Linked DNA regions of Homo sapiens: all the other regions are linked to region 3. Evidence: fine-mapped expression QTL. A gene starts in region 3. Each other region holds a variant in brackets. All regions are shown on one strand. Distances are from middle to middle. Region 1 overlaps ASGR2 (asialoglycoprotein receptor 2). Region 2 overlaps ASGR2 (asialoglycoprotein receptor 2). Region 3 holds the start of CLEC10A (C-type lectin domain containing 10A).

Evidence for each region.
Region 1: its variant is fine-mapped to the expression of CLEC10A in prostate (GTEx, PIP above 0.99).
Region 2: its variant is fine-mapped to the expression of CLEC10A in whole blood (TOPMed, PIP above 0.99).

The regions. Positions count from the first base shown.
Region 1 is chr17:7,106,465-7,112,290 of GRCh38, reverse strand. ASGR2 (asialoglycoprotein receptor 2) reads left to right here. Exons shown (of 9, transcript NM_001201352.2): 3 at 3,403-3,519; 4 at 3,734-3,829; 5 at 4,384-4,455; 6 at 4,974-5,060; 7 at 5,140-5,291. Among named protein-coding and RNA genes, the nearest start is that of ASGR2, 5.4 kb to the left of the region's middle. The variant C/T (reference allele first, on the strand shown) is at 2,245.
Region 2 is chr17:7,095,111-7,105,987 of GRCh38, reverse strand. It overlaps ASGR2 (asialoglycoprotein receptor 2), which reads left to right. Exons shown (of 9, transcript NM_001201352.2): 8 at 3,792-3,898; 9 at 4,248-4,662. The coding sequence ends at 4,413. Among named protein-coding and RNA genes, the nearest start is that of ASGR2, 14 kb to the left of the region's middle. The variant A/C (reference allele first, on the strand shown) is at 3,690.
Region 3 is chr17:7,074,267-7,085,143 of GRCh38, reverse strand. CLEC10A (C-type lectin domain containing 10A) reads left to right here and starts at 4,893. Exons shown (of 9, transcript NM_001330070.2): 1 at 4,893-5,092; 2 at 6,259-6,398; 3 at 7,031-7,147; 4 at 8,157-8,252; 5 at 8,340-8,411; 6 at 9,073-9,159; 7 at 9,259-9,413; 8 at 9,678-9,784; 9 at 9,922-10,607. The coding sequence starts at 6,332. The coding sequence ends at 10,090.

The sequences.
Region 1 (5,826 bases), 30 kb before region 3:
CCGGGGCCCATCTTCCACTTGTCTCAGCACTTGATTTTTTTCTGCTACCCCCTTTTTCTTTTAAAGATTTCAATTATGCATGTATTAAGGGTCCCACAGCTCACTCATTCTCTTTCCATTTTTTAATTCTTTTTTCTCCCAGTGTTTCATTTTATAGAGTTATTGCTGTTCATTAAGTTAACTAAAATTTTCCCCTTCCCCTCCCCCTCCCCTCCCCTCCTTTCCTTCCCTCGCTTCCCCTCCCCTCTCTCTCTCTCATCTCACTCTGTTGCCCAGGCTGGAATGCAGTAGCTTGTCACAACTCACTGTGGCCTCCACCTCCTGGGCTCAGGCGATCCTTCCACTTCAGCCTCCCAGGTAGCTGGGACTATAGGCATGTGGCACCACACCTGGCTAATTAAAAATTTTTTTTTGTAGAGACGGTTTTGCCATGTAGAGGGGTTTTGCCATGCTGCCCAGACTAGTCTTGAGCTCCTGGGCTCAAGTGATTCCCCCCGTGTCGACCTCCCAAAGTGCTGGGATTACAGATGTGATCCACAGTGCCTGGCCCTAAATTTTTCTTACGCATTTCTCATCTTCCATTATTTCCATCCAGTGTGTTTTTTCTTTTCTTTCTTTTCTTTTTTTTTTTTTTGGAGGCGGAGTCTCGCTCTGTTGCCCAGGCCGGAGTGCAGTGGCGCGATCTTGGCTCACTGCAAGCTCTGCCTCCCGGGTTCATGCCATTCTCCTGCCTCAGCCTCCCGAGTAGCTGGGACTACAGGCGCCTGCCACCACGTCTGGCTAATTTTTTGTATTTTTAGTAGAGATGGGGTTTCACCATGTTAGCCAGGATGGTGTCGATCTCCTGACCTCATGATCTGCCCGCCTTGGCCTCCCACAGTGCTGGGATTCCAGGCGTGAGCCACGGCGCCTGGCCAGTGTGTTTTTTCATTTCAGACATTGTAGTTTTTATCTCTAGAAGTTCACCTGGGGACTCTTAAATATCCTCCACAATTCTACTTAATTTTTTGAACATAATGGGATATGGCTATAATATCTGTTTTACCATCCTTGCCTGCTAATTCTAGCATCCGTGTCAGTTCTGGATCTCTTTTGATATTTATGAACCTCCTCGTTATGCATTGTGTTTTCCCGTTTCATTGCATGCCTTGTAATCTTTGATTGGCTGCCAGACATTGTCAATTTCACCTTGTTGGGTGCTGGATATTTTTGTATTCCTCTAAATGTTCTTGAGCTTTGCTCCGGGATGCAGTTAAGCAACTTAGAGTCAGTTTGATCGTTTGAACTCTTAATTGTTTTGGTCTCCTCGGACTCTCAGCTCCATCTCCTCAACGTGGGGAGTCTCTTGGGCTCTGCCTGGACTTCCCTTTCCTGGCCTGTAACCTGCAGACTCTCTCCAAACAGTAAGCTGGGGTGATCGGAGGGTTCCTGTTGTTTGCTTCTTATCCCTCAGGGATCTTTACTCCTCCTTGCCTGATGTCCAGAGTCTTGAAAGCTGCCATGTTCTATAGTTGTCTGTTTTTGTTTTGATTGTTTCTGGGGAGAGAAGAACTCTTCCCATCTTGGGCAGACCCTGTCTTTTATGTTCAAACTTTTGCCTAAGAAGCACATTACATATTTTAACTCATCTAATTATCCGAGCAATCCAATCGGGTAGCTACGACTGTGATCTCCATTTTACACACGAGAAAATGGAAGCATGGAGAAATTGAATGCTGGTGCATGATCTCAGAGCTACCTGGAGGCACAGCTGGGCTACCCTGTGGGCAGTCTGGTTTCAGGGTGGATATACAGACACGTTGCTGGGCTGACCCAGCATTGGGAGTTGATAAGTCGGACTGGGAAGCAGGACAGGACCCTCTGAGTGGAGGGTGCTGAAGACAGCAGTCAGGGACTCAGCCATGGAGGGCCAGCTTGGTGGGGAACACCGTGGTCATGGAGCGCTTCTGGATGGAGAGGAATGCAAAGGCCTTGGAGGAAGGGGTGGGGGCAGTGAGAGGGAGGGTGGGGCTGTGCTCAGAGCGGGAGTGGGCAGTGGAGGTGTCAGAGGCCTCCCTGGGTCAAATGGGGTCCTGAGTGTGGCTGCAGTGGGGAAGGTGGAAGTCACTGGTGTGAAAAAGATGAAGAGTTATGGACAGTCACTTACAGGGGCAGTGTCTGACTCAGGACAGTGGCAGGAAGTGACCTGGGGAGGAAGATTCTGGGCCCCTGACTGAGCCTCCCCAGGATGTGGTCCTGCTGGGT[C/T]GGGGGGTGATAGGAATGAGAAGACAAGGAAGTCCACAGAGTCAGGGTCCAAGGCCTAGAAGGTGTTCTGTTTGCAGGTGGATGCTGCAAAGAGAGGAGCTCAGGGCTGGGACAACTGGAGCTGCTCTGGGTCTGGAGGCAGCAGAGAGGGAGCCCAGCTCTGTGTGCAGGAAGACGTGGGTGTGTGAGTGTACGTGTGTGGGTGTGTCAGGTGTGTGTGTGTGGGAGGGAGTATGAATGTGTGCATTAGCATGCATATGCACATGTGAGAGTGGGTACAGCAGAGCGTGGTCATGAGTGTGTGCAAATGTGTGTTTTTGAGTGAAGTGAGCAATGTGTGAGTGTGTGAGTGTGTGTGAGTTTGTGAGGGCATGTGAATGTGTGTGTCAGTGCTGTCAGGGTGCAGATGGATCAAGGGGCAGGAGAGGTACCTGTGAGATGACCTCGGGCTGAGGGGAGCAAATTTAGTGTGGAACGAGGTTTCTAGGGAAGCGAGGGCAAAGGGCGCTGGGGAGGAGGCCTTGCGTGGTGGGGGATGAGGACAACAGGTGGGACCTGGAGGGTTGTGCTTGGAGAGTGGGCTATGGTGGAATGACCCAGATTTAAGGATCTCAATGGAATTTTGGCAGGGGAGGGACTGTTCCAGTATGGATTTTAGGAAGAACACAGGGCCCAGCTTCTGGAGTCTCCAATCTGAGGGGACAGGAGCCTTAGAAGAGCTGAGACTAAGGCCCGAGGTGATCTGGAGGCCTCTGCCACTGGCTGGATGGGAGGAAAACCATTCACAGATCCCCCTTCTCAGGATGTGTGCCTAGGCAGGGCCGGGTCTGCCCCCCCGCCCCCTGTGCGTCTCCCAGTCCCCCAGCTCCAGGATCCGGGCTTTGCACACAGCTGATGTGAATATCCTGAGTCGTGTGCATGGGTGTGTGTGCACCAGATTAGCTGCGTGTGTATATTTATACATGGTAATATGGGTGCGAGTGTGTAAGAGTGTGTGTGTAATGCTCAAATGCTGGGGTCAAAGCCTATGATGACCCCCCCCCATGGCCCCAACCAATCCCCCCGCCCAGGTTATGCCTCCTCAGGCTTCGGTGCCCTGTCTTTACCCTCCGGCTCCCCACACCCAGGCTGCCGGCTCCTGATGCCCCTCTCCCACAGGGCCACCTCCTGCCCAGCCCCTGGCACAGCGTCTCTGCTCCATGGTCTGCTTCAGTCTGCTTGCCCTGAGCTTCAACATCCTGCTGCTGGTGGTCATCTGTGTGACTGGGTCCCAAAGTGAGGGTCACGGGGGCCAGCAGGGATGGGCAAGGGGTAGGGAAAGAGACATGGGCAGTGGCGGGCAGCGATCGGGGCGATGGGAGGGGAAGGGATGGAGGCGGGGTGGAGCACAAGCTGGGGCAAATGCGGGGACATTGAGGGGCCAGTCACATGGACAGTGATGGGGACACGGCCCCTCTGCCTCATCCTGCCCCCACTACCACCTGACAAGGTGCACAGCTGCAAGCCGAGCTGCGGAGCCTGAAGGAAGCTTTCAGCAACTTCTCCTCGAGCACCCTGACGGAGGTCCAGGCAATCAGCACCCACGGTGAGGGGCTGGACGGCTGGGTTCTCATTTATCCGCACAGGTTTGCTGGGCTCAGTGCCGAGTCTGCAACAGGGCTGTGTGGGGTGCCGTGGGGGTGCAGGCTGGGCAAGGCGTCCAGGGGCCCTGGGGGATGTATAGGAGGGAGGCAGGTGGGGACGGACGAGGTTAGTGCCAGGTGGAGAGGTTGGATCTGCGACACCCGGAGGTGAGGAAGGCACCATGTCTTGGGCCTGTGAGCAAATCGAGTGTGGCAGGCCCATCGGAGGGGCAGGCAGGTAAGGGGTGGCCAGAGAGAGGTGGGGAGGGGCCCGGCCACGCAGGTGAGCCGTGCTGACAGAGCGAGGCTTTATTTTGAGAAAATGGGGACCCATTGAAGGGACTGAAGCAGGAGAGTGGCCTGAGCCACTGTGGCAGTGCAGGGAGCCTGGGTGTGGTCCAGGAAGCCAGGAGGTGGACGCCTGCATCGCCCAGGACGAGGCGCTGGCCCCCGGTCCCCCAGCAGCATGAGGACGGAGGGAGGCTCAGCGGGGAAACAGCTGGCTTTCCGCTTCCAGGAGGCAGCGTGGGTGACAAGATCACATCCCTAGGAGCCAAGCTGGAGAAACAGCAGCAGGACCTGAAAGCAGGTCAGAGAGCCTCCGGGGTGTGTGCGCATGTGCGTGCATGTGTACGTGTGCGGTGTGTGTAGTGTGTACGTGTGCGGTGTGTGTAGTGTGCACGTGTGCGTGCGTGCGTGTGTGTGCCTGCAAGCATGTGTATCTGTGTCTCTCTCCGTATGTGTGGTGTGATATGTCATGGATCTGTGTGTGGTGTGTAGTGTGGTGTATATGTGTGTGTTGTGTGTGTATGCATGTGTGGTGGTGTGTGTGAGATGAGTCTGTGTGTGTGCGGTATGGTATATGTGTGTGTACGCATGTGATGTGTGTGGTGTGTCTCTTGGTGTGTTTGTGTGTGTGTGATGGATCTGTGTGTGGTGTGGTCTATGTGTGGTGTACATGTCTGTGGTGTGTGTGTGGTATGGTGTGTGGTGTGGTCTATGCATGGTGTACGTGTCTGTGGGTGTATATGCTTCCCCAGCCACAGGCTGGAGCCTAGCAGGTGGGGACCACACCTGCCGGCAGCACTTTCAGCCTGTCTGTCCTAGATCACGATGCCCTGCTCTTCCATCTGAAGCACTTCCCCGTGGACCTGCGCTTCGTGGCCTGCCAGATGGAGCTCCTCCACAGCAACGGTAGGGGTGGGGCCGTCTCCAGGCCCAGTGTGCCTGCCCCTCCGGCTGGATCTCATCTCCCTGCCCCCTGTCCCCTCAGGCTCCCAAAGGACCTGCTGCCCCGTCAACTGGGTGGAGCACCAAGGCAGCTGCTACTGGTTCTCTCACTCCGGGAAGGCCTGGGCTGAGGCGGAGAAGTACTGCCAGCTGGAGAACGCACACCTGGTGGTCATCAACTCCTGGGAGGAGCAGGTGAGGCCACGCTTCCCACAGGCAGGAGGAAGCCCTTGGAAGGCCTGCTCTGGGAGGCTGGATCAGGCTTATTTTATCCATTTTTTTTTTTTTTTTGAGATGGAGTCTCGCTCTGTCGCCCAAGCTGGAGTGCAGTGGCACGATCTCGGCTCACTGCAAGCTCCGCCTTCTGGGTTCACGCCATTCTCCTGCCTCGGCCTCCCAAAGTGCTGGGATTACAGGCACGTGCCACCATGCCCGGCTAATTTTTTTGTATTTTTAGTAGAGACGGGGTTTCACCGTCTTAGCCAGGCTGGTCTGGAACTCCTGACCTCATGATCCGCCCACCTCCGCCTCCCAAAGTGGTGGGATTACAGGCGTGAACCACCGCGTCTGGCTGAACTTCAAAGTATTTTAATGCCACAGTAGTTAAGCCATATGATACAGGGGCCAGAATATATGTATTGTTTGCATTACATCAGGCTCTGTTAGTACTTTACAGCATACTGTGAGTACGAACATATTTTGCTTTACTGATCAGGTTGAACTTGCCAAC
Region 2 (10,877 bases), 21 kb before region 3:
GTGAAACCCTATCTGTACTAAACATACAAAAATTAGCCGGGCATGGTGGCGGGTGCCTGTAATCCCAGCTACTCAGGAGGCTGAGGCAGGAGAATCACTTGAACCCGGGAGGCAGAGGTTGTGGTGAGCTGAGACTGCGCCATTATACTCCAGCCCGGGTGACAGTGCGAGACTCTGACTCAAAAAAAAAAAAAAATGCTAATTTAAATTAATCTTGGCTTCATCCTGGACCATTCCCTGAGGGGCAGCACAGGGCAGCTAAGCTTAAGGTATTTCTCCTATATAGGTTTTTTGTTTTGTTTTGTTTTTGATACAAGATCTGGCTCTATCGCCCAGGTTGGAGTGCAGTGGCATGATCTCAGCTCACTGTAACCTGTGCCTCCCGGGCTCAACGGATTCTCCCACCTCAGCCTCCCAAGTAGCTGGGACTACAGGTGCACACCACCATACCTGGGTAGTTTTTTGCATTTTTAGTAGAAATGGTGTTGTGCCATGTTGCCCAGGCTGGTCTTGAACCCCTGGCCTCAAGCGATTCGCCCGCCTGGGCCTCCCAAAATATTGGGATTACAGGTGTCTGAGCCACTGTAATCCAAAAACTGCACCTGGCAGGTTTTGTTTTTGATGTTTAAAAATCTAATAAGTACCTTTTCTTTTAATAGGTGAGTGTCTCATTTACATTCTAATAGATATGTTTAACCCTAGTCCTTTCTTTTTTCTGCTTTACATGCTTCTTAATTTTCTTACAATTGCTATGTGAGAGGTGTTCTTTTTGTTTTCTTCTTTATGGTATTTTGGAAACTATGTAGTTTATTTAGAGTTATTCCAGTGATTACTTGTATAACTTTAAATAATAGGCTGAAAATTATTGGCTTTGAAAACTAAAAGTTTGTATAACTTCCATAGGAAAGGTGAGGAGACCAGGATACCTCTTATTCCCATGTGTCTGAGTCTTTCCTTTCCTAGGTTCCTTAAGTGTTGTATCTGAAAAAAAAAAAAAATTTTTTTTTTTTTTGAGATGGAGTCTTGCTCTGTCGCCCAGGCTGGAGTGCAATGGCGCGATCTTGGCTCACTGCAACCTCTGCCTCCCAGGTTCAAGCAATTCTCCTGTCTTAGTATCCCGAGTAGCTGAGATTACAGGCACCCGCCATCGTGCCTGGCTAACTTTTATATTTTTTAGTAGAGACAGGGTTTCACCATGTTGGTCAGGCTGGTCTTGAACTCCTGACCTCGTGATCCGCCCGCCTTGGCCTCCTGAAGTGCTGGGATTACAGGTGTGAGCCACCACGCCCGGCCCCTCAAGTGTTTTATCTGAAATTTTTTGTTTATTTTTATTTTTTGAAATGGAGACTTGCTCTTTCGCCCAGGCTGGAGTGCAGTGACACGATCTCGACTCATTGCAAGCTCTGCCTCCCGGTTCAAGCAATTCTCCTGCCTCAGTCTCCCGAGTAGCTAGGATTACAGGTGCCTGCCACCATGCCTGGCTAATATTTATATTTTTAGTAGAGACAAGGTTTCACCATGTTGGCCAGGCTGGTCTTGAACTCCTGACCTCAGGTGATCCTCCCGCCTGGCCTTCCCAAAGTGCTAGGATTACAGGCATGAGCCACTACGCCTGGCTTTTTTTTTTTTTTTTTTTTTTAAGACAGAGTTTTGCTCTTTTTGACCAGGCTGGAGTGCAATGGCACGATCTTGGCTCACTACAACCTCCGCCTCCCAGGTTCAAGCGATTCTCCTGCCTCAGCCTCCCAAGTAGCTGGGATTACAGGCATGCGCCAACACGCCTGGCTAATTTTGTATTTTTAGTGGAGATGAGGTTTCTCCGTGTTGGTCAGGCTGGTCTCCAATTCCCGATCTCAGGTGATTCACCTGCCTTGGCCTCCCATAGTGCTGGGATTACAGGCGTGAGCCACCACACCTGGGCTTTTTTTTTTAGTATGTAGCTCAAACTTTTCATTTCCTTTCCTTATCATGTTCTCTTTTTTTTTTATATCTTCTTTCATGTTTTATGTCATTCTTTTTAAAATTTTTGAAGCATGTAAAGAAACTGTTCTTGGGAGCGGGGAGGGAGAGCATTAGGAGATATACCTAATGTTAAATGACGAGTTAATGGGTGCAGCACACCAACATGGCACATGTATACATATGTAACAAACCTGCACGTTGTGCACATGTACCCTAAAACTTAAAGTATAATAATAATAAAAAAGAAACTGTTCTCCAACATCCCCTCATATTCCGAAACAAGGCTTCTTTTCAAAGTCTATTTTTCACCTCTCTTTTTGATATCACAGTTCATTTTTCATCTGCCTCATCTTCCTCTTTCTTTTTGGGGGCATAAGTTCCATGATGATTTTCTCCATTACTTTTGTGAATGGGCACAGTGCTTTCTTTCCTATGGTTCACCCAGGAAAGGGGGAATGAATTCTCCCGGACTGTCTTCTCTGATCATCTGGCATGATTTGATTCCTCCTCTCAGTCTTTAACACGGCGGGCTGGATACTGCTAATTTGTAGTCTGCTCAGTTGTTCTGTTTCTCGTGGTGATGGGAGGGAGGGCTGGCAGCAGGTAGCAGCACATAGTGTGTGTTGTCTCCAGGCACTTTCTCTCCAACTCCGTTGACTCCTCTGAATTTGGGGAGCAGCCTCACCTGCCTCTGAGGGCTGCCCCTTCATGCATGGGACTTTGTCCTATTTGTGGGATTCCAGAATTTAGGGATGCCCCAGTTTCTGATGCTCAATCGGAAGAGGTGAATAACTGCAACCTTAGTTGTTTTTCTAGAGAGTGAGAGTAGAATTAGGCAATTGTCCTTCAAATACTGTTGGAAGGAAAATTCCAGGCTGTCAAAGGGAATTGTTAAGTGTGCACGTTGCTCAACGGATCCATCCCTCTCCACTTTCTCCACAAAACCAGGTGACCACACCTTCCCCTCCTACCCTACCGAACCACGGGACCTAGGTCCCCAGGAACAGCTGTATGTGTAAGAGAAAGCCACTTGGAGGGGCTACCGTGCTGGGAGTGTGGGTGCGCGTGGGTCCCGGGGAGCTATCTGCAGGCTCGAAGTCCACTTTCACCCAAGCCCCTGGCAACTGGCTGTCCGGGCTGCTTCCTCACACCCCGGTGTCTTCCTATTTTGCCCCGATTGTCAGACTCCACGTAGCTAGATCATAATGGGGCCCTGGGCAGTGGGTCCAAGCTTAGAAGCTCCCGGGCCTGACAGATCTCAGGAAATGACAGCTACACATAGAAGCGAGAGCTACCAGGGGCCAATGTACTTGAGAGGCCAGTGAAACTGAGATCTTCAGTGGGTCTGGGGTCTGGGGGGCAGTAAGAGCAGGGACCAGGGTCGGGATCCCAGGAGTTCGAGGCTGTGGGCAGAAGACAGGGAGAGAACCGGAACTTGGGTAGAGCCATAAGCTGGGAATGAAGGGGGACACCGGCCCAGGGCTGTGAACAGGGGACAGTGGCCACTAACTCAGGTACAGGATTGGCTCTCTGGCTCTGCAACTCCCTGCAAAATGTGGTCACTGCAGTGCCCATCTTAGAGAGCTTCTGAGGATTAAATGAGATCATCTTTGCACAGACAGCACGAAGTCTAGCCTAGCAAATGTGCACTGAACAGTAGCTAGAGTGACGGAAGAAAAAGCTAGGAAGCAGTCTTGTCGGGAGCTGGTGCTTCAGCCTGAGGGCAG[A/C]TCAGGCTGGGGAAGGCTGAGAGGGGCCACAGTTCCATGCCTGCATGGAGGGAGGAGAAAGGCACAAGAGACTAGAAATTTCCTGTTTGCCTGTGTTTCCAGAAATTCATTGTACAACACACGAACCCCTTCAATACCTGGATAGGTCTCACGGACAGTGATGGCTCTTGGAAATGGGTGGATGGCACAGACTATAGGCACAACTACAAGTAAGTGGCCTCTTCCCTCATCTCCTTGTTAGATTTCTCTGGGGACAGCCCCCTGGCCTTTCACTCCAAGCTACCCTGACTCGTCCCTCAGGGACCAAATTCCCCAATCCTCTCCTCCCCAGACTCCAACCCCTCCAAAGCTGTGCTCTTCTGGGCTGGGGGTGAGGGTTGCTGGGACTGGGCATAGGAAACATCTTTCTCTGCGGTTGGGTTCTCCCCAGACTGGGTAGCAGGGCACACCCCAGCTCCACTCTCGGCCTTCAAGGAAAATGGTCATGAAGAGGAGGAGGATGGGTAAGTCGCTTTCTCACCACCGTGGCAGAGTCCGAGTTTTCTCTTGCCTCCTTAGGAACTGGGCTGTCACTCAGCCAGATAATTGGCACGGGCACGAGCTGGGTGGAAGTGAAGACTGTGTTGAAGTCCAGCCGGATGGCCGCTGGAACGATGACTTCTGCCTGCAGGTGTACCGCTGGGTGTGTGAGAAAAGGCGGAATGCCACCGGCGAGGTGGCCTGACCCCAGCACACCTCTGGCTAACCCATACCCCACACCTGCCCAGCTCTGGCTTCTCTGTTGAGGATTTTGAGGAAAGGAAGAAACACTGAGACAGGGGTATGGGGAAGAGCTGAGCAAAGAGAGAAAGGAGGTAGTTTAAGAGTCCCTGACCCTGGAGGACTGAGATCCCACCTCCTTCTGTAATTCATTGTAATTATTATAATCGTCAGCCTCTTCAATGGCGTAGGAAAGAAGAAACAAATGCTTGAATCTCTGTGTGGCCTGGTTATTGGGAACTGAGAAACAGCATGCAAAGAGGAGGGAGAGGGGAGGGCATGGAAGACGCAAGGCGCGCATCCTAGACAGCTGCTCCTTGGTCCCTAATCCCGAGGGACATTGGTCAGGGAAACGGGAAAGGGGCTTGGAGCAGACAGGCTTAGTGGCTGGCACTGGTGGGAAAGGGGTCGGCCGGGCTGTGGCTGGAGGGTCCGCCTGGCTCCCAGTGAGAGGTGACAGCGTGCTGGCAGTCCTCACAGCCCTCGCTCGCTCTCGGCGCCTCCTCTGCCTGGGCTCCCACTTTGGCGGCACTTGAGGAGCCCTTCATCCCGCCGCTGCACTGTGGGAGCCCCTTTCCGGGCTGGCCAAGGCCGGAGCCGGCTCCCTCAGCTTGCAGGGAGGTGTGGAGGGAGCGGCGCTTGCGGGCCAGCGCGATTTCCGGGTGGGCGTGGACTCGGCGGACCCCGCACTCGGAGTGGCCGGCCTGCCCCACCGGCCGCGGGCAGTGATGGGCTTAGCACCTGAGCCAGCAGCTGCTGTGCTCAATTTCTCGCCACGCCTTAGCTGCCTTCCCGCGGGGCAGGGCTTGGGACCCGCAGCCCGCCATGCCTGAGCCTCCCCGACCCCCGCTCCGTGGGCTCCTGTGCGGCCCGAGCCTCCCCGACCAGCGCCGCCCCCTGCTCCAGGGCGCGCTCAGTGCCATCGACCACCCAAGGGCTGAGGAGTGCGGGCGCAGGGCGCGGGACTGGCAGGCAGCTCCACCTGCGGCCCCAGTGCAGGATCCATGGGGTGAAGCCAGCGGGGCTCCTGAGTCTGGTGGGGACTTGAAGAACCTTTATGTCTAGCTAAGGGATTGTAAATGCACCAATTGGCACTCTGTATCTAGCTCAAGGTTTGTAAACACACCAATCAGCACCCTGTGTCTAGCTCAGGGTTTGTGAATGCACCAATTGACACTCTGTATCTAGCTACTCTGGTCGGGAAGTCGAGAACCTTTGTGCCTAGCTCAGGGATTGTAAACGCACCAATCAGGCCAGATAAGAGAATAAAAGCAGGCTGCCCCAGCCAGCAGCGGCAACCCACTCGGGTCCCCTGCCACACTGTGGAAGCTTTGTTCTTTCGCTCTTTGCAATAAATCTTGCTGCTGCTCACTCTTTGGGTCCACACTGCCTTAAGAGCTGTAACACTCACCACGAAGTTCCGCAGCTTCACTCCTGAGCCAGTGAGACCATGAACCTACCAGAAGGAAGAAACTCTGAAGACATCTGAACATCAGAAGGAACAAACTCCAGACACGCCGCCTTTAAGAACTGTAACACTCACCGCGAGGGTCCGCGGCTTCATTCTTGAAGTCAGTGAGACCAAGAACCCACCAATTCCGGACACACCAGGGCTCCCAAAGGAAACATCTTTCTCTGCGGTTGGGTTCTCCCCAGACCGGGTCGCAGGGCATACCCCAGCTCCACTCTCAGCCTTCAAGGAAAATGGTCACGACGAGGAGGAGGATGGGTAAGTCACTTTCTCACCACCGTGGCTCTGTCTTTTTGACCCCAAGCGGATCTAGACATATCTTCAACACAGGGTGTCACCAACAATCTCCACAGTGGGCAAACTTCCCGCTCCAAGAACATTCTGAAACTGACCTTAAAAAGACTATTCAGCGGTTATATTATTTATTTAAGTTGGAGTCTTGCTGTGTTGCCCAGGCTGGAGTGCAATGGTGCGGTCTTGGCTCACTGCAACCTCCACCTCCCGGGTTCAAGCGATTCTTCTGCCTCAGCCTCCCGAGTAGCTGGGATTACAGGCATGCGCCACCACACCCAGCTAATTTTTGTATTTTTAGTAGAAACAGCGTTTCGCCATGTTGGCCAGGCTGATCTTGAACTCCTGACCTCGGGTGATCCGCCCGCCTCTGCCTTCCAAAGTGCTGGGATTATAGGCATGAGCCACGGGGCCCGGCCCCATATTTTTAAATTTTTAAAGTACAGAAGTAATACATTCTATTAGTAAAAAAATGTTTTAAATGACACACACACACGCACGCACACGAGTGTCCTCTCAGTCCTCCTCCGTCTCCCCAGAGTCAACTCTTTCCTGTGTCCCCTGCCAGAGCCCTTCCTGTGTACATGAGTAGATGCAATATTATGTCATTACATAGTGCCTGTTCCGCTTCACAGTGTCTCGTGGACACCAGTCTAATCTATGCCATTACCTGGCAGGTTTTACCTCCTTGGATTTAGCAGCTGTAGAGAATTCCAAAGTAGGGATGTACCATGCATTATGTAATCATTCTCTGTAGGGGGCAAGTAGTTACCACTTTTGTTTCTTTGTTTTCACATAGAATGTTTCAAAGTAATTTTTTTGCTCATAAGCTTGGGATAGGTCAAGACTTCCCACTTTTCAGTTGAAAAATTTTCTAGGATTGCCCCTTCAAAATGTACACGATTGGGATTAAATTTAAAAAACCGTGAAAATAGGCTGGGTGCAATGGCTCATGCCTATAATCTTAGCATTTTGAGAGGCTGAGGTGGTGGGTCGCCTGAGCTCAGGAGTTTGAGACTAGCCTGGGCAATATGGCGAAACCCAGTCTGTACAACATGCACACACACACACACACACCCCAGCTGGATGTGGTGGTGCATCCCTGCAGTCCCAGCTACTTGGGAGGCTGAGATGAGGGGATAGTTTGAGCCCAGGAAATTGAAGCTGCAGTGAGCTGTGACTGTGTCACTACACTGCAGCCTGGGTAAGACAGCGAGATCTTTTCTCAAAAAATAAATTATGGAAGTAATAATACACTCTAAAGTTTTATAGGACTAGAATTTTTATAGAAAAGTAGAAATTTTATAAAGTCTATAAAACTAGAAGTATAAAGTCTATAAAACTAGAAGTTTTACAGGGCTCTAGGTTACTTGACCTGCCCCCTTTAGCTCCTCTTGCTGCCTGGAGAAACTGCTTTCAGTGATTCTAGCTGTTTCTTCTAGTACTGACATCTGCAGTTCTAAGTAAGACACACAAACTGATATTTCATCTTCGTATGAGTTGTAGACATTATTTAGTCGCTATCATGTAAACGAGGTAAAATCTTCCAATGTAGTCTACAATTTATATTTAAATACTACTTTAAAATTTGTATCAGTTGTATCTGTGTCAATATGGTTACTGCTGAGTCAACTACTATAATCTGATTACATTCCCTTTCTTGCACAACTCTCATTTCTTCTGAAAGTAGTCAGTATTCCATTAAAAAAATTTGCCTCATATTCTTTTAACTTATTGCTGAGTCTTCCTGAACTGTAAAAAGCTTGACAATATAATTTTTCCAGACGTGCAAACCAGTCGTATAATCAGTATTTTAGTTGTACTTGGTGTACTTTTTCCTAGAGCCAGAGAAGTGATTCCAAGTTTTATGGGGCCTGAGGTGTACACAATTTTGGGGAGCCCTCTGTAAGAACAATTACAAAATTATGGATATAAAATTAAGCATAAAAATTACCATTTATTTAAATTTAAAAAGTCACAAATTTCAAAAGCAGAGAGCTACCAGAAACATCACAGAATCTAGAAAATGCTATATATACATATATATATAAATTGTATGTGTACATATACATATATATGTGTATACACACACACACACACACATATATATATATATATATTTTTTTTTTTTTTTTGAGACAAAGTCTCGCTCTGTCACCCAGGCTGGAGTGCAGTGGCATGATCATGGCTCTCTGCAGCCTCAAACACCTGGGCTCAAGTGATCCTCCCACTTCAGCCTCCCAAGTAACTGGGACTATAGGTGCATACCACCACGCCTGGCTAATTTTTAAATTTTTTATAATGATAGGGTCTCACTAAACTGGGTTCAAGACCAGAAGGCCTTCTGGTTCAAGACCAGTTTGAGCCTCCTGGTCTCAAACTCCTGTGCTCAAGCGATCCATCTGCCTCGGCCTCCCAGAATGCTGGGTTTCCAGGGTTGTTACAGGTAGTTAGACAGGCATGAGTGGGCAGGAGGGGGCTTTCCCGCCCACTAGAAATGTTGGGTGATGGTTCAGCAATGATCACATCGCCTCTCTAAAAGTGATAAATTGGCCTTGCTCTTGTCGCCCAGGCTGGAGTGCAGTGGCACGATGTTGGCTCACTGCAACCTCCACCTCCCGGGTTCAAACAATTCTCTGCCTCAGCCTCCTGAATAGCTGGGATTACAGTCACCCACCACCACGCCTGGCTAATTTTTGTGTTTTTAGTAGAGATGGGGTTTCACCATCTTGGACAGGCTGGTCTTGAACTCCTGACCTCGTGATCCACCTGCCTCGGCCTCCCAAAGTGCTGGGATTACAGGCATGAGCCGCTGGACCCGGCCATGGAATTGACTTTCAAACTCAACGTAATTCCCTCGAGATTTTTACAAGTTGTTGCATGCGTCAACAGTTCATTTCTTTCTGTTGCTGAGCGCTATTCTATGGTATAGATAGACGTACCACAGTTCGTTTAGCCATTTACTCATTGAAGGACATCTGGGTTGTTTCCAGTCTTTGGCTGTTGCAAATACGGCTGCTATGAATATTCATGTGCAAGTTTTTGTGTGAACACACATTTTTATTTCTCTGGGAGAAATGCCTGAGTGCAATTTCTGGGTCATATAGTGGGTGCATGATTACTTTTAAAAGAAACTGCCAAACTGTTTTCCAGAGTGGTTGTACCATTTTATATTCCCACCAGCAATGTATAAATGATCCAGTTTGCCCACTTCCTCACCTGTATCTGGTTGTTGTCAGTATTTTAAAGTTTTAGCTCTTTGGATAGATATATAGTGATACATTACTGTGGTTCTAATTTGCGTTTCTGTGGCAGCTAATGAGGTTGTACATTCGTTCATGTGCTTATTTTCCATCTGCTTATCCTCTTTGGTAAAACATCTCTTCATGTCGTCTGCCCATTTTCTTTCTTTCTTTCTTTTTTTTTGAGACAAAGTCTCGCTTTGTCACCCAGGCTGGAGTGCAGTGGCGCGATCTCGGCTCACCACAACCTCTACCTCCCAGGGTCAAGTGTTTCTCCTGCCTCAGCCTCCCGAGTAGCTGGGATTACAGGTGCTCGCCACCACGCCCGGCTAATTTTTGTATTTTAGTACAGATGGGGTTTGCTATGTTGGCCAGGCTGGTCTCGAACTCCTGACTTCAGGTGATCCGCCTGCCTCGACCTCCCAACGTGCTGGGATTACAGGCGTGAGCCACTGTGCCCAGGTTTCTGCCCATTTTCTAATTGAGATTGTTTGTTTTTTCACTGTCAAGTTTTGATAATTCATTATATATTCTAGGTACTAACCCTTTGTTGGATAGGTGGTTTGCAAATATTCTCTCCAAGTCTGTAGCTTGTCATGTTATCCTCTTAACAAAAACCCCTTTCCAAAAAGACTAATATGGTAAACAACATCTTGGCAAGCCCAATTAAGGAACTGAGAAAAGTGACATGACCACAAGAAATAGGGAGGTTAAATGACACTTTTCCTGTTGTTATAGAGATTTGGCTAGATTCCCAAAGTTGAGAATGATCATTGGTAAGTGCCCATTTAAAACAGAGAAAAGCTGGATGCATGTAGGCAGGACTAACTAAGAGAGGCAACATAATCACCATCACTCTTCCCAGGCTACGCAAAAGATGAATGGAGATTTAAGGGGATTGTTTCAAAGCAATTCTTTTTTGTTTTTTTATTTTTTGAGATGGAGTCTTGCTCTGTCACCCAGGCTGGAGTGCAGTAGCGCGATCTCGGCTCACTGCAACCTCCACCTCTTGGGTTCAAGTGATTCTCCTACCTTTGCCTCCTGAGTAGCTGGGATTACGGGCACCCGCCATCATGCCTGGCTCCTTTTTGTGTTTTTAGTACAGACAGGGTTTCACCATGTTGGCCACGCTGGTCTCGAACTCCTGACCTCAAGTGATCCACCTGCCTCGGCCTCCCAAAGTGCTGGGATTACAGGCGTGAGCCACCGCGCCCGGCCTCAAGGGAATTCTTAGATGTGTAGCAAGGGATTCAACACTTTTTCCCTCCACAGGAAGGGGAATGCTTCTTTAAACCTCTATCAGTGAGATAATAGAGTTGCAAGGGAACTGTTTGTAGAGACAGTGGTTGTCTGCCAGGGGATAACACGAGCATCTCCCTGCCAGGCCTGATGGTAGCCTTATAAGATGCAGACACCACTGGGACC
Region 3 (10,877 bases):
TCACAATTTAAAATCTTTCAACAAAGAAAATATCCAGTTTCAGATGACGTCTCTGATGAATTCTATCAACTATATAGGTAGAAATAATTAAATGGAGAAAAGTATTTTCAATAAATGGTGCTGGAACAACTGTATATATATGAAAAAATCTAATTCATAATGATCATAGACACACATCAAAGCTGAAACTATAAAAATTATCGAAGAGAACACAGGCTGGGCATGATGGCTCACACCTGTAATCCCAGCACCTTGGGAGGCTGAGGTGGGAGGATTGCTTGAGGCCAGGAGTTTGAGACTAGGCTGGGGAACAATAGTGAGATCTGTTCTCTACACAGTAAAATGTTTAACTAGTGTGGTGGTGCATGCCTGTAGTCCTAGCTATTCAGGAGGCTGAGGCGGGAGGATCACTTGAGCCCAGGAGGGGCTGTTTCTCTTGGATTTTTAAAGTAGACAATCATGTCATTTACCAATAATGACAGTTCTCTTTCCCTTTCAACCTTCATATGTTCCAATCACTTGTCTTTCTGTATGGTCTGGAAGAATCTCATGGAGAACTGGTGGCACGAGCGTGCTTTCTCTTGTTCCTAGCTTAAAAAAAAAAAAAAAAAGTCCTGACCAGTAGCGGTTCTAGGAGAGGGTAAGAATTTGCGGAAAATGTGGCGGAAGAGGGAAACGATCATTGTCAACAGTGAAAGGGGTCTCAGGGACAGAAGCATTTAGGAAAGAAAAGAAGATTGCTTGCCAAGACCTGGCAAATAAATCAGGCTTTAGAAGGACAGGCTTGCCAAACTAAAACCACAACAAGTATTGAAAGGGAAATTCTCCAAGATTACCATTGTGAGCACGTTTTTATCAGTCTACTCATGATGGCAAAACCCAGCGCTTTTCTCACATGATTTTCATATGCACGAAAGGTCATGACCTACCCAGGCGTCAGCATTGCAAACATCAGGGTTAGAGTTGTTTTTCTAGGGAGTCAGCAATTTATAGAAAATGCTCAATGTTTAGTTTATTTTGGGGACTAGAAGAACTATTTTTTTCATGAAACCCGCAAGCAATTTATCAGCGAAATTCTGTCTGCTCTACCTTCACAATATATCCAGAATCACAACACTTCTGACCACCTCATTTCTCACCTGGATATGACAGCAGCTTCTTACCTAGACTCTCTGTTTCCAGCTTGTTTCATCAAATTCACAACACAAAAGCCACACCGTTACAGTTAACATATGTCAGGTTATGTCATTCCTCTGCTCCAACCCCTTCAAAGTCTGCATCTCTGACTCAGAGTAAAAACAAGTCCTTAATAACAGCCAACAAGGCTCACATTTTCCCCCATCGCTCATCTACTCTTCTCCTCCCTGACTCACTTCTCTATAAAATCTCTGGCAAGTCTGTCAAATGGATGATCCTCATACACACCAGACGTTCTCCCACCTCAGGGCCTTTGCACTTGCTCTGCCCGCTCCCTGCATCACTCTTCCTGCCAGAGCCCCTTGTGACTTGCTTCCTTACCTCCTTCAAACTTTGCTCAGATATCACCTTCCCAGTGAGGCCTTTCTTGACACTCTGGTATGGTTTGGATCTGTGTCCCCGCCCAAATCTCATCTTGAATTGTAATCCCCGATGTTGGAGGTGGGGCCTGGTAGGAGGTGATTGGATTATGGGATGGATTTCTCATGAATGGTTAGCACCATCTCCTTGGTGCTGTTCTCATGATAGTGAGGGAGTTCTCGTGAGATCTGGTCTTTTTTTTTTTTTTTTTTTTTTTGATGGAGTCTTGCTCTGTTGCCCAGGCTGGAGTGCAGTGGCGCGATCTCGGCTCACTGCAAGCTCCGCCTTCTGGGTTCATGCCATTCTCCTGCCTCAGCCTCCCCAGTAGCTGGGACTACAGGTGCCCGCTACCCCGCCTGGCTAATTTTTTGTATTTTTAGTAGAGACAGGGTTTCACTGTGTTAGCCAGGATGGTCTCGATCTCCTGACCTCATGATCCGCCCGCCTTGGCCATCCAAAGTGCTGGGATTACAGGCGTGAGCCACTGCGCACAGCCGTGAGATCTGGTCATTTAAAATCTGATCCCCTGTCTTTTCTCTTGCTCCTGTTCTTACCATGTGAGGCACCTGCTCCCCCTTCATCTTCCACCATGATCATAAGTTTCCTGAGGCCTCCCCAGAAACTGAGCAGAGGCCGGCACCATGCTTCCTGCACAGCCTGCAGAACTACGAAGCAATTAAACCCCTTTCCTTGATAAATTACCGAGTCTCAGGTATTTATTTAGAGCAATGTGAGAATGGACTAATACATGCCCTATTCTTGAGGGACATTAAAAATCAACCCTATCTCATATCCCTGCTCTTTTTCCGCAAAGCACTATTGCCATGTGGCTTATGTATATTTTACTCATTTATTTTGTTTATTGGTGACCCACTAGAAGGTAAGCTCTATGAAGGCAGGACTTTTTTGTCTGTTTACTTTTGAACTCCTGAACTCTGCCTCTTGGGAAGGAAAGTGCTTGGCATGCCGTAGACTCAATAAGTACTCAAATGGATGAATAAATGTGTATAAGAGTGATTGGACGTATGTTTATTGCAGAACTATTTACAATAGGAAAGACTTGGAACCAACCCAAATGCCCATCAATGATAGACTGGATAAGGAAATTGTGGCACATATACACCATGGAATACTATGCAGCCATAAAAAAGAATGAGTTCATGTCCTTTGCAGGGACATAGATGAAGCTGGAAACCATCATTCTCAGCAAAGTAACACAGGAACAGAACACCAAACACCGCATGTTCTCACTCATAACCGGGAGCTGAACAATGAGAACACATGGATACAGGGAGGGGAACATCACACACCAGGGTCTGTCAGGGGGTGGGCGGCAAGGGGAGGGAGAGCATTAGGACAAATACCTAATGTATGCGGGCCTTAAAACCTAGGTGATGGGTTGATAGGTGCAGCAAACCACCATGGCACACGTATACCTACGTAACAAACCTGCACATTCTGCACATGTATCCCAGAACTAAAAAAAAAAAAAGAAGCTTCAAACCCACTGAACCAGACTGAAAAAAAAAAGTTAGTGAATGGAGAAATATCATGTTCTTTTCATGGAAGATTCAACAATGTCAAAATGTTGATTATCTCCAAATTAATATGTGAATACACTGCAAGACTGTGGTAGACACACAGAGAGCTACCCAGGTCCCCCTTCTAGGAAGGATGTGGTGACCCACTGTGGGGAGTGTAACCTGCAGACAGCTGCTTCCTGAGGTCACACCCATGTCAGGGCTGACTGCCAGTGACCGAAGGAGCTGGTGCTCTACAGGACCCTGTGGCAGTCCAATGCTGGACAGCTCCCGGGGGTGGCATTGTTTGAACCCAGAGCTCCCTGTTGGTTTGGTTGAAGCTCTCCAAAGTGCTGGGCTTCTCCCTCTGCCCAGCACCATTTCATCCACTTTCCTTTTCGAAGTGCTAATCCCTAATAAATAGCTTGTACCCCAAATTCAGCCTCAACCTTGGCTTCCAAAAACCGAACCTGCGACATATACTAATCAAAATACCGAATACCAAATAAAAACAAAACTGGCAACGACCTGGCCGGGTGCGGTGGCTCGCGCCTGTAATCCCTGCACTTTGGGAGGCTGAGGCGGGCAGATCATGTGAGGTCAGGAGGTCAAGACCAGCCTGGCCAATATGGTGAAACCCCTCTCTACTAAAAATACAAGAATTAGCTGGGTGTGGTGGCGGGACCTGTAATCTCGGCTACTCGGGAGGCTGAGGCAGGAGAATCGCTTAAACCCAGGAGATGCAGTAGCCGAGATTGTGTCACTGCACTCCAGCCTGGGCAACAGAGTGAGACTCTGTCTCAAAAAAATAAATAAATAAATAAAATAAAAAAGAAAAGAAAAAGAAACAACTTAAATTTCTGATTTATTTCTGTCAATAGAGAAATGCTAAATAAATAAATTACGGTGCCTATGATGAAATGAGGTGCAGGTAGATCAAGTACATTTTATAAACTGATGTGGAGAAATGTTCCTGATAGCTTGTTAACTCCAAAAAAAAAAAAAAAAAGCACATAGCAGAACACAACCCCATGTACATACAAAATATAACCTAAAATGTATTTCTTCTCCTTCTCCACCTTGTAAGATACTCAGTTTCCTTCCTACTGAAAGGGATGTGCGCGTGGATTCAGGGCAGCTCCCTTAGGGGTTGAGCAGGGATCATGGGATGAAATGGAATCCTGTTCATGAAGACAGCGCCTGTGCTGAGAGCCAGAGCAGGGTGCCAAACTGTCTCCTTACAAGCTGTGAGTGATCTTGGGCTCTGAGCCTTTAGTCCGTCATCCAAAATGCCTCCCCAGGTGCTTGGGGGGAATGGTTGTGGAAGGTAAATGTCTGGCATAATCCTATCACAGATTACTCAATAAAATTTGCTCTTTTCCTTGGCTTCTCCCGTCCTATTAGGGCCAAGAAGTTCTATTCTCTGGCACCCCCTTCCCTCCTTCCGAGTGGAGTGAGGCGAGCGAGGCCACAGCTGAGCAGCCGAATGACTGGGACCCAGAGGATGCTGATGCCAGGGACTCAGGCCAGGATTGAGCAAGAGAACAGACTGGGCTTCTCTAGGATCAGAGGTGCGATGATGGAGACCCAACAATTCTGGGAAATGTAGAGGCAGGAAGTGAAAGGAAGTGTAGGGTAGAGGAGCAACAGCAGATTGTACCTCTGATCCAGCCCTGCTCCCAGATGGTAAAAATGAGGAAGCTCCGAGAAGAGGAAAGGAAGTAGGCATGGCCTGGAGGAGGAGAACAGAGCTGGCCTCAAACCCAACTCTCCCCACCCACACATGGTCTCTGTGTGTTCTAATCCCTGTTCATTCTCATTTACTGTCTAAAGTTGAGGAGATGGGATGTCCCAGATGATAGGGCTCCTGGGATTTCAGACCCAAGACCAGCAGGACTCCAGTCACCTCTACCCCAGCTCTCCAGGACACAGCGCTCCCAACTCTGAGTGACGTCCCACCTCTGGTCCTTGCAGCACAACCAACGTGGGAATCACACCCTCCAGACCTCCCACAGGTAATGGTGCTGCCGGTGCCGGTGAGACCCAGGGGACAGGGGATGTCAGAGGAAGCAGGGAGAGGGGGACTTTGGGTCTTGGGTGGGACTAAATGAAAATAAATATAAGGCGGCAGTGTGGGGTTTAATTACTACGTGGAGATTTGAGACTCTGTTCCCTTCACTGGATTCTAGATTGGGTTACGGCAGCCACAATCCCCTGTCATAAACTAAGACTCCGGGAGCTGAGGCAGGAGAATCTTGTGAACCCAGGAGGCAGAGGTTGCAGTGAGCCGAGACGGCCTCGTTGCACAACAGCCTGGGCGACAAGAACGAAATTCCATCTCAAAAAATAAATAAATAAAAATAAAAATAAACTAAGACTCAGACTCAGCCTCATTGGTGGCCCATTTCCAGCCTTATCTTCATCTCAGCCCAGCCATGCCCTAATCCCAATACTAACCCCAGCTTCTACATTTTCTTTTTTTTTGAGACTGAGTCTCACTGTGTCGTCCAGGCTGGAGTGCAACGGCACAACCTCGGCTCACTGCCACCTCTGCCTCCTGGGTTCAAGTGATTCTCCTGCCTCAGCCTCCCAAGTAGCTGGGATTACAGGCGCACACCACCACACCCAGCTAATTTTTGTATTTTTAGTAGAGATGGGGTTTCACCATGTTGGCCAGGCCGGTCTCAAACTCCTGACCTAAAGTGATCTGTCTGCTTCGGTCTCCCAAAGTGCTGGGATTTATAGGCGTGAGCCACCGCACCTGTCGCCCCCCACCCAGCTCCTACTTCAACCCCAACCCCAGAATCAACTTGAATTTTAACACCAGCCCAAAGCCAAAATTGAACCTCGACTCTATTCTGTTTCCAAATTCACCACCAAAGTTAACCCCAATTCCATCCATGGCTCCAACGTGCATACTGACCCCAATCCTAGCATGAGATACAACCTCCAGTCCTGCCTGATTAACTGGCCCACTGGGTAGTCCTAGCAATGCGTTTAGCTCCAACGTTACCCTCCAGTTTCACTCCCAAACTCAACTCGACCCCAATTCTAACTCGACTGCAAACCCAGGCTCATTTCCGTCTTAACCCTGGGCTCATTCTCAACCTGAGCCTCATCTCCCAACTCAACGTCAGCCCTGCCCTTGGCTCCAACTTAGTCCCAACCTCCTATTCCCCAGCTCCACCCCAGACTGGGCGCCGGCCCTGCCTCCATTTCAGCTGTGACAACCTCAGAGCCGTGTTGGCCCAAGCATGACAAGGACGTATGAAAACTTCCAGTACTTGGAGAATAAGGTGAAAGTCCAGGGGTTTAAAAATGGTAAGAGGAAAGGGGAAACTCTCCTAAAATGCCCTCTTTATATGTTTAGAAGGATTTCTCCTATCATTTCTGTACCTCCACCACGCGCACTGGTGGGTCCTAACTCTGAGGAGGTCAGGCCCCAGCCTCTGACGGGCCTAGTGTGAAGAGGATGCAAGGTCTCTAGAAAGACTGGGACAGGGAGGATCACAGTGGACCCAGCTTCTGATGCTCTGTGGGGTGGGGATGAGAGCTGCGCATTGGTGGAGGGAAAGATAAGTAGTTGGGTTTGGAAGGAAACTCATTTGTGAACCTGATTGTCCAGCAGGTAGGTGAGCATAAGCCCATGAAGGGCTGGCTGCCCCCAGCTCTCCCTGTGTCCTCCTGCCCCTGCCCCCAGCTCTGACCATGGGACCCCTCATATCGCTATCACGTGGGTCCCCAGGGGTGTGAGGGGCCTGTGTGACTGAGGACTTGTGCTGGTCCCTGAAGTCAAAGGCCTGGGCATCCCCCACCCCAAAATCCTCCTTGTCCAACCCTCCCCTGGAGTCCCCTGTGCCCAGCCCTCCTCACTAGACAGCTCCCTGGGCCCTCTCCTTCTCCCGTCTCCGGTGTCTGGACCCTCCTCATCCTGACACTCTCTCCTCTTGCAGGGCCACTTCCTCTCCAGTCCCTCCTGCAGCGTCTCTGCTCTGGGCCCTGCCATCTCCTGCTGTCCCTGGGCCTCGGCCTCCTGCTGCTGGTCATCATCTGTGTGGTTGGATTCCAAAGTGAGGGTCACAGGGGTGGACAGGGAAGAGAGAAATAATGGGGTAGAAGATAAATAATGGGGTGCTACAGTAGGGCAGTGGTGGGGCGATGGTGAGGTCCACAGTAGGAGCAATGCAGGGCACAGTGTTGGGGGCAGCTGTGGAGATAACAATGGGGCATGGTGAGGGCAGTGCTACCAACAGTCATGGGGGTCACAACAGAGCCACTGAAGCACTGATGGGGCACTGATGGAGTGATTGATGGGAATGGAGGAGAGGGCACTGATGGAGTGATTGATGGTAACGGTAGGGGGGCACTGATGGAGTGATTGATGGGGACGGTGGTGGGGGCACAGACGGAGTGATTTATGGGAATGGTGGGGGGCATTGATGGAGTGATTGATGGGAATGGTTGGGGGTCACTGATGGAGTCATTGATGGGAATGGTGGGGGGGCACTGATGGAGTGATTGATAGGAACGGTGGGGGGTCACTGATGGGGTGATTGATGGGAATGGTGGTGGGGGTCACTGATGGAGTGATTGTTGGGAATGGTGGGGGGCACTGATGCAGTGATCGATGGGAATGGTGATGGGAGCACTGATGGGGTGACTGATGGGAATAGTGGGGGGCACTGATGGAGTGATTGATGAGAACAGTGGTCGGAGCACTGATGGAGTGATTGATGGGAATGGTGATGGGGGCACTGATGGAGTGATTGATGGGAATGGTGGGGGGGCACTGATGGAGTGATTGATGGGGACGGTGGTGGGGGTAGTGATGGAGAGAGTTGACGGACCCATAGTCAGGATGGCTGCTGGCTTTGTCACTGAGTAGTTGGGTTATGTACTCAAATTACTTCACCTCTCTGAGGCTTAGTTTCCTCATCGGCAATATTGAACAATAATAGTGCCTGCCCCACTGGGTTGCCGTGAGGACCCAATAAGGCAATGCTTATGGAGGGCCCTGCTCGGTGCTGGTACAGAGGACCTGATGAATCCCAGCACTGACCTTCCCATCCACCTGTTTAGATTCCAAATTTCAGAGGGACCTGGTGACCCTGAGAACAGATTTTAGCAACTTCACCTCAAACACTGTGGCGGAGATCCAGGCACTGACTTCCCAGGGTGAGTCTGGTTTGGATGGGGCTCTGGGCTGGGGCCAGGCCAGGGAGGAGGAAGTTGACCCCTAAGCCAAGTCTCCGTGTCCTCCAGGCAGCAGCTTGGAAGAAACGATAGCATCTCTGAAAGCTGAGGTGGAGGGTTTCAAGCAGGAACGGCAGGCAGGTGAGAGACCCTCCGAGTATGGGTGTGGGGGGCTAGGCGCTCAGACACAGTGGAGGTGGGAACAGACTCCTGGTGCTGAACTGCCCTCCCCTTCAGCCAGCAGCTTGAAAGGCAGCATGCAGGCCGGGCGCAGTGGTTCACGCCTGTAATCCCAGCAGTTTGGGAGGCCGAGGCGGGTGGATCACGAGGTCAGGAGTTCGAGAGCAGCCTGATCGACATGGTGAAACCCCGTCTCTACTAAAAAAAATACAAAAAATAGCTGGGTGTGGTGGTGGGCGCCTGTAATCTCAGCTACTAGGGAGGCTGAGGCAGGAGAATTGCTTGAACACGGGAGGCGGAGGTAGCCGTGAGCCGAGATCGCGCCATTGCACTCCAGCCTGGGCAGCAAGAGTGAAACTCCGTCTCAAAAAAAAAAAAAAAAAAAAGAAAGAAAGAAAGAAAGGCAGCATGCTTTCTCTGGAGAGCAGGCTGGAGAAACAGGGGCAGAGGAATCCAAAGCAGATTTGATGGCTGTACCTGGCCATGATGTAGGGGGTGGGTGGGGGCGGGAAGGAACATTCCCTGGCTTGGCCCTGTGCAGGGGTATCTGAGCTCCAGGAACACACTACGCAGAAGGCACACCTAGGCCACTGTCCCCACTGCCCATCTGTGTGTGTCCCAGTTCATTCTGAAATGCTCCTGCGAGTCCAGCAGCTGGTGCAAGACCTGAAGAAACTGACCTGCCAGGTGGCTACTCTCAACAACAATGGTGAGGAAGGTATGGGGAGTACCTGGCCCTACTTTTCTGCCCATGGCCCACTGGGCAGAGCCTCAGCCTCTCCACCCTATCCTATTTCTCCCCAATCAGCCTCCACTGAAGGGACCTGCTGCCCTGTCAACTGGGTGGAGCACCAAGACAGCTGCTACTGGTTCTCTCACTCTGGGATGTCCTGGGCCGAGGCTGAGAAGTACTGCCAGCTGAAGAACGCCCACCTGGTGGTCATCAACTCCAGGGAGGAGCAGGTGAGGGCTTCTGGTACTCAGTTCCTAAGACATGTCCCATTTAGGGAAATGGTTCTTAAGCTTGGCCGCACATTGGAATCATCTGGGAGCTTCCAGAATGACTGTCATCTGTGCCACACCCTCAGAGATTTAATAGGCCTGAGCATCCAGAGAAACATCTCCAAACTCCTCAGTTGATTTAACGAAGAGCTAAAGTTGAGAATCACTAGTTTAAGGAGTTGGCTGGGATGGGAAGAAGTCACCACTGCCCTTCTGTCACCGCAGAATTTTGTCCAGAAATATCTAGGCTCCGCATACACCTGGATGGGCCTCAGTGACCCTGAAGGAGCCTGGAAGTGGGTGGATGGAACAGACTATGCGACCGGCTTCCAGTGAGTGCACCCTGGCTTTCTGTGCCAATGTCCTCCGTCAGCGTTTCCCCCAGGGATCTGACTGGCAGCCTCTCCTCCCCTGAACTGAATTCTACTCCATCTACCCTTCCTAGCTTGCTGTTGTCTTTTCCTCTCAGGAACTGGAAGCCAGGCCAGCCAGACGACTGGCAGGGGCACGGGCTGGGTGGAGGCGAGGACTGTGCTCACTTCCATCCAGACGGCAGGTGGAATGACGACGTCTGCCAGAGGCCCTACCACTGGGTCTGCGAGGCTGGCCTGGGTCAGACCAGCCAGGAGAGTCACTGAGCTGCCTTTGGTGGGACCACCCGGCCACAGAAATGGCGGTGGGAGGAGGACTCTTCTCACGACCTCCTCGCAAGACCGCTCTGGGAGAGAAATAAGCACTGGGAGATTGGAAGCACTGCTAACATTTTGAATTTTTTTCTCTTTAATTTTAAAAAGATGGTATAGTGTTCTTAAGCTTTTATTTTTTTTCCAACTTTTGAAAGTCAACTTCATGAAGGTATAATTTTTACATAATAAAAATGCACTCATTTAAAGAGTAGAGATGACTTTGACAAATATGCATGCCTAGGTGACTACCACTCCGATCGCAATAGATAACATTGCCATCGCCCCCACCAGTCCCCTCATGCCTCTGGGCAGTCCAACCACTTCCCTGTTTCCAGGCCAGTGATCTACTTCTTTTTCACTATTTATTGGCCTTGCCTCTTCTAGAGCTTCTAGAACTTCATATAAGTGAAATCATACACTCTCGTGTATATACTTCATATAAGTGAATATATACTCTCGTGAGAACTTACGTACTTTGTGTTGCTTGATTTTTGGCAATCTAAAAATGGCAGAGTGGAGAAGCCAGGTGAAGCCTTCGAAAGTCCTATGTGATTGAGAAAATAGCATTTTCTTCTCATATAGATTTGAGTTCAAATCTTTTCTGTCACTTAAAGATGGTATAAACTTAGGGTGATTAGGAAAAGCCATTGTTTAATTTCTCTGAAGATCCCAGAGTTGTTGGGAGATGTAGATAAGATCCCCAGGTGTATTGGTTAGCAATTGGTGTGTAACAAACCAC